Homo sapiens: one gene and its partner. The protein of the gene in region 1 interacts with the protein of each later gene in a biochemical or structural test. Each region holds a gene or a part of one and is shown on either strand. Other genes may lie near its edges.

Evidence for each region.
Region 2: of the proteins of WDR62 (region 1) and MAPK8, one has a biochemical effect on the other in vitro, tested with the Homo sapiens proteins (one study listed by BioGRID).

Annotation. Positions count from the first base shown.
Region 1 is NC_000019.10:36,099,145-36,102,752, forward strand, and holds part of WDR62 (WD repeat-containing protein 62), read left to right. Parts: intron 1-254; coding exon 255-473; intron 474-1,603; coding exon 1,604-1,731; intron 1,732-2,069; coding exon 2,070-2,173; intron 2,174-2,519; coding exon 2,520-2,630; intron 2,631-2,869; coding exon 2,870-3,007; intron 3,008-3,592; coding exon 3,593-3,608. UniProt on the Homo sapiens protein: Required for cerebral cortical development. Plays a role in neuronal proliferation and migration.
Region 2 is NC_000010.11:48,400,677-48,404,279, reverse strand, and holds part of MAPK8 (mitogen-activated protein kinase 8), read right to left. Parts: intron 2,669-3,603; 5' UTR 2,620-2,668; coding exon 2,498-2,619; intron 1-2,497. UniProt on the Homo sapiens protein: Serine/threonine-protein kinase involved in various processes such as cell proliferation, differentiation, migration, transformation and programmed cell death.

The DNA of each region.
Region 1 (3,608 bases):
CTGAGAGGTGGAGGTTGCAGTGAGCCAAGGTCACGCCACTGCACTCCAGCCTGGGAGACAGAGCAAGACTTCGTCTCAAAAAAAAAAAAAAAAAAAAAAACAGAGAAAGGTTCACGCTGGAGATATGTACCTGGAAGTTGTTTCTGAATGGTATTGAAAGCCAAGAGTCCAGATGGGCTGTGTGAAATGTCCGTGTCGCTCCCTGCAGTGAGTGAGCACTCAGCCAGTTGCCTGACTGTCCGATATCCTTCAAGCTAGGGGACGATGATGTGGCAGATGGCTTGGCCTTCCACGCCAAGCGCAGCTACCAGCCCCACGGCCGCTGGGCAGAGCGGGCCGGCCAAGAGCCCCTCAAGACCATCCTGGATGCCCAGGACCTGGATTGCTACTTTACCCCCATGAAGCCCGAGAGTCTGGAGAACTCCATTCTGGATTCACTGGAGCCACAGAGCCTGGCCAGCCTGCTGAGTGAGGTACACACTTCCACCGCAGCCTGGCCCATAGCCCCGGCACCGTGACGGCCCCAGGGCCTGGCGCCTTAGGCTGACTCCCACTCCATGGGGGCAGGGAGGATTACATGAGATGGTGAAGGGCAGGAGGGTGAGCCCCAGGTCTGTTGCACAGCAAGACTTCCCAAGGCAGACAGGGAGTCTTTGGAAAGTGGGTCACTTGGGGGTTAAGAGCTTGGATGCTAGAGCAGGCTTGTACCCAAGTGGGGGACATTTGGGTAGATCGAGCCCTGACCCTACCCATTCCTGTTGTGTGACCTGGAGTAAGAGGCTTACCTCTTTGGGCTTCAGTCTTCTAAAAAGTAGTCATAATGGGGTCAGGGGCAGTGGCTAACACCTGTAATCCCAGCATTTGGGGAGGCCAAGGCAGGAGGATTACTTAACGATCACTTGAGGAGTTCAAGGCCAGCCTAGGCAACGTAGCAAGATCCCACCTCTACAAAAATATTTTTTAAATTTTTTTGTTTGTTTTGTTTTTAAATGGTAATAACAATCTCTTCTGCCCCAGAGGGCTTTTACAGGAATCCATGCTTAAGTATAGGGCCTGGGCTCTTAGAGGTGCCCGTGCAACTTTAGCTCTTTCTCTACTATTTTCCAAACAAAATTCATTTTTATCCTATCCTATAATTTGTCATCTTCATTGTGGTATAATATACATCCAGTAACATGCACAGATTTTAGGTATACAGCTTGATGAACTATCTGTGTAATTCACGTGTGTCCACTACCCTGGGCAAAATCTGGAGTGTTTTCTACCTCATAGAAACCCCCTTCTGCCCTTCCCAGTCAGGTCCCCGCACCAGGATAACCAGTGTTCTGACCTCTCACCAAGGACTGGGTTTCCTATTCTTGAACTTGATATAAATAGACACGTAGAGGGTTGGGCCTCCTATTTTTGGTGCCACACCTCTTCCTCATCTGTAAAGGGACTGATAATGCAGGGGCAGACCAGGACAAGCTGGTTGCGAGTGGAGGGCATGGCACAGGCCCTGGTTCACAGCCTCCAGCAGTGGGGCTGCTGGCATGGTTCCTGGCGCACTGTTGGTGGCCCCAGCCATGCCTGCCTCAGAATGGCTGTGCTGTCTTCCCCATAGTCAGAGAGTCCCCAGGAAGCTGGCCGCGGGCACCCCTCCTTCCTGCCCCAGCAGAAGGAATCATCTGAGGCCAGTGAGCTCATCCTCTACTCTCTGGAGGCAGAAGTGACAGTCACAGGGACAGACAGGTGGGTGTCCTTTCCACCAAGGGAGCCTTAGTTGGAGGAACCCCCAGCTGATAGCTGCATCCTGGAAGAAGTGCTCTCTGCCTTCCCAGTGGGCTTGTGGGAGTGGGGACAGTTGAGGCCTGGATGGGGCAGGAGCCCAGCCTTAGTTCCCTGGTTCCAGGTGGGGTACAGGAGGGCCTGACCTGGGGGAAGGAGGGGGCATTTGGAGGAGGCGGGGAGGCTGTCGCAGTGCTCCTGCAGGAGCAGCGGGTACAGGTGCCTAGGGGCTCCGGGTGGGGCTAGCTGTTGAGTCTCCAGCTGAAGTCCTTGTTCCCTCTCTGCCCCCACTGGCACTGCAGCCAGTATTGCAGGAAGGAGGTGGAGGCCGGGCCTGGAGACCAGCAGGGCGACTCCTACCTCAGGGTGTCCTCCGACAGCCCAAAGGACCAGAGCCCGCCTGAGGGTGAGTGCAGGGCAGGCAGGGACCCTGTGACAGTCTGTGCGTTCAGCCAAGCCCCTTTCTGGGCACCGATGGTGACTTTGACCCAGTACTGAAGCTCAGAGTCTGTCGAGGAAGACACATGTGGTCCCTGCTGCTGCCTGAGGATTCTGGGCCCAGCTGCCTACAGCTGAGAGCCCAGCTCTGCCACCTCCTTGATGTGGAACTTCCCTTATTCATAAAATGGGGGGCAGCTGCTCTTACCATCCCTCCTCCAGATGGGGAAACTGAGCCCAGGGAAGGGTAGCCCTGGCCCTGGCTCACCAGAATGGTCAGGCTGTGGGCTCCTGACCCCGACTCTGTCCTTCAGACTCGGGGGAGTCAGAGGCCGACCTGGAGTGCAGCTTCGCAGCCATCCACTCCCCAGCTCCGCCTCCTGACCCTGCCCCTCGGTTTGCCACGTCGCTGCCCCATTTCCCAGGTAAGCAGGGGCCAGACACGCAGGGGACTCGCTGCTCGGGCCTGGCTTAGGGCCAGTCACAATGTCTAAGCACAGGCCCTGCACTTGGAGCCCACTGAGCCTGGAAGACGGGGATCCCTGCTTCTCAGCCTGCGGGCAACAGGGCAGGGATGGGTGGGGCCCGCTTTCTCCATTTCAGGTGGCGTCTGCTGTGACTCATGGTGTTGGCTCCTCTTGTCCCTCCCCTCCTTCCCTGTCAGGATGCGCAGGTCCCACAGAAGATGAGCTGTCCCTGCCCGAGGGACCCAGCGTCCCCAGCAGCTCCCTACCCCAGACTCCGGAGCAGGAGAAGTTCCTCCGCCACCACTTTGAGACACTGACTGAGTCCCCCTGCAGAGGTAGGGCCCTGCCTCACCCACACCTGCCGAGGCCGTCTGTGCAGCCTGGGCACAGCATTGGCGTCCCTGGAGTTGGCTCCCCAGCAGGGCCAGGAGGGTGAGTGGAGAGCAACTGCTTCGTTTTTTTTGAGACGGAGTCTCGCTCTGTTGCCAGGCTGGAGTGCGGTGGCCCAATCTTGGCTCACTGCAACCTCCGACTCCCTGGTTCAAGCAATTCTCCTGCCTCAGCCTCCTGAGTAGCTGGGATTATAGGCATCCACAACCACGCCCTGCTAATTTTTTGTATTTTTAGTAGAGATGAGGTTTCACCATGTTGGCCAGACTGGTCTCAAACTCCTGCCTCAGATGATCTGCCCGCCTTGGCCTCCCAAAGTGCTGGGATTACAGGCGTGAGCCACCGTGCCCGGCCCACTGCTTCACTCTTGACCTGAGCCTCACGATGCCTCCTCACCCACTGCCCCTGCTCGTACCCTGTGTCTGTACATAAGGGTTTCTGGGGAGTGCCCCGCTGGGCTGTGGGCTGGCCTAGGGCCAGGGCTGCTCGGCGGGAAGGGTTATGAGGGTCCCCTCGGGATCTTCCCCTAGAGCTCTTCCCCGCAGC
Region 2 (3,603 bases), on another chromosome or scaffold:
GAGGCTAAGGCAAGGGAATCACTTGAACCTGGGAGGCGGAAGTTGCAGTGAGCCAAGATCGCACCACCGCACTCCAGCCTGGTAGACTCCCTCAAAAAAAAAAAAAGCATATAAATTCTACTCAAAAGATTTGCTGAATAATTCTATGTAAACACATTACTTCTATCCTTTTGGACACAATAAAATAAATACAGAAGGGCCAGGCGCAGTGGCTCACGCCTGTAATCCCAGCACTTTGGGAGGCCGAGGCGGGTAGATCACGAGATCAGGAGATCGAGACCATCCCGGCTAACATGGTGAAACCCTGTCTCTACTAAAAATACACACACACACACACACACACACACACACACACACACACAAATTAGCCGGGCGTGGTGGCAGGCACCTGTAGCCCCAGCTACTCCGGAGGCTGAGGCGGGAGAATGGCGTGAACCCGGGAGGCGGAGCTTGCAGTGAGCCAAGATCACGCCACTGCACTCTAGCCTGGGCGACAGAGTGAGACTCTGTCTCAAAAAAAAACAAAAAAACAAAAAAACAAAAAACAAAAAACAAAATCTGAACAGAGAGCTGGCTTTCAGAATCCTAATACTGACTATATAATATGATTTTCTTTAAATTTAATTTATGGTTGGTTAAATGTGGTTGGTTACAATGAGAACAGGCCAGTCAAAACGGCTTACAAAATGACTCCAACTTCTATAATTTTTGATATTGTAAATTACTTCAAGAATGCAGGAAAGATAATAAATGCCATTCTATTATGCAAATTTATTAAATCTTAATACGTTACCATAATTGCTCTGATTTTTTTTTTTTTTTTAGACGGAGTCTCACTCTATCACCCAGGCTGGAGTGCAGTGACACCATCTCAGCTCACCACAACCTCCACCTCCCGGGTTCAAGCTATTCTCCTGCCTCCGCCTCCCAAGTAGCTGGGATTACAGGCATGTGCCACCATGCCCAGCTAATTTTTGTATTTTGAGTACAGACAGGGTTTCACCATGTTGGCCAGGCTGGTCTTGAACTCCTGACCTCATGATCCACCCACCTCGGCCTCCCAAAGTGCGGGGATTATAGGCGTGAGCCACCGCGCCCGGCTTGCTCTGAATTTTTTAGAAAGAAATATAATATTATAGGTCAAACCTCCTTTCTTTTCTCTATTTTCTCAGAGATAAACAACATCCTAAGTTTGGTATTTATGCATGTTTTAATCTTTTGTACATATATATAATCCATAAATATATGGTACTGCTTTGCATATTTTAAGCTACATGTAAATGGTATAATGATGTATATATATATTCTACATCTTGCTTTGAAGCCCAGCACTACATTTCTGAGGTTATCCTTGTTGACACATATGGCTCCAGTTCGTTTAAAATGTTATATAGTATTTCACAGCATGACTGTATCACAATTTTTTATTCTTCTGTTGATAGATTTGATGCTATTTCCAATTTTTGCTGTTATAAATGGTGCTGCAAACACCAATCCTATGCATGACTCCCTGTGCACATGTAAAACAGTTTTTTTAGAACCTAGGAGAAATACTGGATTATAAATACTTAACAGTTTACATTTTGTTTAGAATAGATTCTGAAATTTGTTTCAAGAAGAGGTAATAAAAATATAATTATTCTTGAGTGAGGCTTATAATTCCCCAAAACACTAGTTTATTATTATGCTAATTTAGTGATCTGCAATCAGTATCAGAACTATCCCAAAGAGTGATCTGCATTTCAGTTTATAAAGAATTATGCTGATATAGCCTGAGGCTTTTGTAGAAATTAGCTAATAAATCAATTTTAAACATATGGATGAATTTTGAAACACACACAGTGAGATATTAGCTGACTTCATTCCCCAGTATAGAATAAGATTTCTGAAATTCCACGCTTCATTATAGTGTGAAAGTGATGACTAAGTGAAGCTTCTTATTAAACAATTATCTATGGGAATACATGTATACATGAAATTAACAAGCATGCCACTTATTCTTTGCTGATAGAGATATTTGTCTTCAATGGCTATGCCCAAGTATTTAATCATAGTTTATACTTAAAGATGGCAGTGCTAGTTTATAGAGTTGTATCTTATGAATAATACAGGTTATTATCCCAAATCTGAAAATATGAAATCTAAAATGCTCGAGAATCTAAATTTTGGGGGCACTGACATGATGCTCAAAGGAAATGTTCACTGAAGTATTTCTGATTTGAATTTGGAATGCTCAACCAATGCAAATATTCCAAAATCTGACACTTCTGGTCCTAAGCATTTCAGATAAGGGATACTCAACCTTTAATAATAATAATAAAGAAAAGACCATTGATCCTGAAGCAAACAATTTACTGTGGAATAGTTTTCGTTTAATTTTTAGTTTTAATTTAATTTTTCAAAGCAAGTTAAATATTTGCCAAGGTATCTAAATTACGAGAGGAGAAAAGGTAGCAGTTAATGATTCTTTGCCTAATTTTTGGAAGTAAACACTTACCATACTATTCCTTGAGCTCCTGAGCCTATAGGTTTTAAATTCTGATATCGTTTCAGGACTGTGAATGTAGAATCTCCAATCTCTACACTATAAAAATTGTTGTCACGCTTGCTTCTGCTCATGATGGCAAGCAATTAATTTAATGGCTTCATCCAAAAATTCACCAAGAAGCTGCAAGATGCAACAAAACATGATGTTAACAAAATGAACTTGTTTTAATCTTAAAATTTGAGTCCTTACTGTTTACGTACTGATAGTAACACAGACTGCTAGATCATGAAAAGAGCTGCTTCATTAAAAAACATAAGAAAAAAAATACCGCAGAGCCTTGATTAGCATATGCCATATGAATGACTGATAGTTTTTTTTAAAAAAGAAACATTAGGATAAATCATTCCTCCAATCTAGAAGTTACCAGTATTAATACATTAATAACTTACAAGACGAACAAAAGAAAGCAAATAATTAAAATTAAACATGTTTTTACGTCACTCCACAGTTTAAAATTTAAAACCAGTCTTTCTCATGTGCTTATTATAGAGAATAAAAACCTTAATTTTTGTAAGAAATTTATAAACTTTGATTCAAAAATGGTTAAGTCTCATTTAGTGCCAAGTGGAGGGAACAACAAATGGAAATAAGTTGACTAGCATGTGTCATCCTTGCCTAAAAAACAAAGGGTACCACAGTGCCTTCACTGTGACAGATCCTCTGACCTGCCAAGGCAACCTCCTGGTGTAACACACATACTGAGACTGTAATGGGTGAAAGGATGAGAAGCAAAACAGAAAGGAGAGAGAGAGAAGTAGTTAGGCATATTGGGATACAAAACAAAACAATACTATTCTATCCTGCCTGAGGCATTAAAAGTACGATTCAACTTCTGACTACCATTCCTTTACTACTTGTAGGATTAAAAATCAAGACACTTTTTTTCTACCCATGTGAATACTGGTTATTAACAAACTTATCCATCCTTACTAGACAAAAGAGACTATTCCAAAATGTATGCAAAGCAGCTTTAACCTATTCCTCGCCTCCTCAATAAGTCATGAAACCAATTAGGTCTAAAGTTATTGTTTTTTGTGGTTTTAAGATAATGCTAA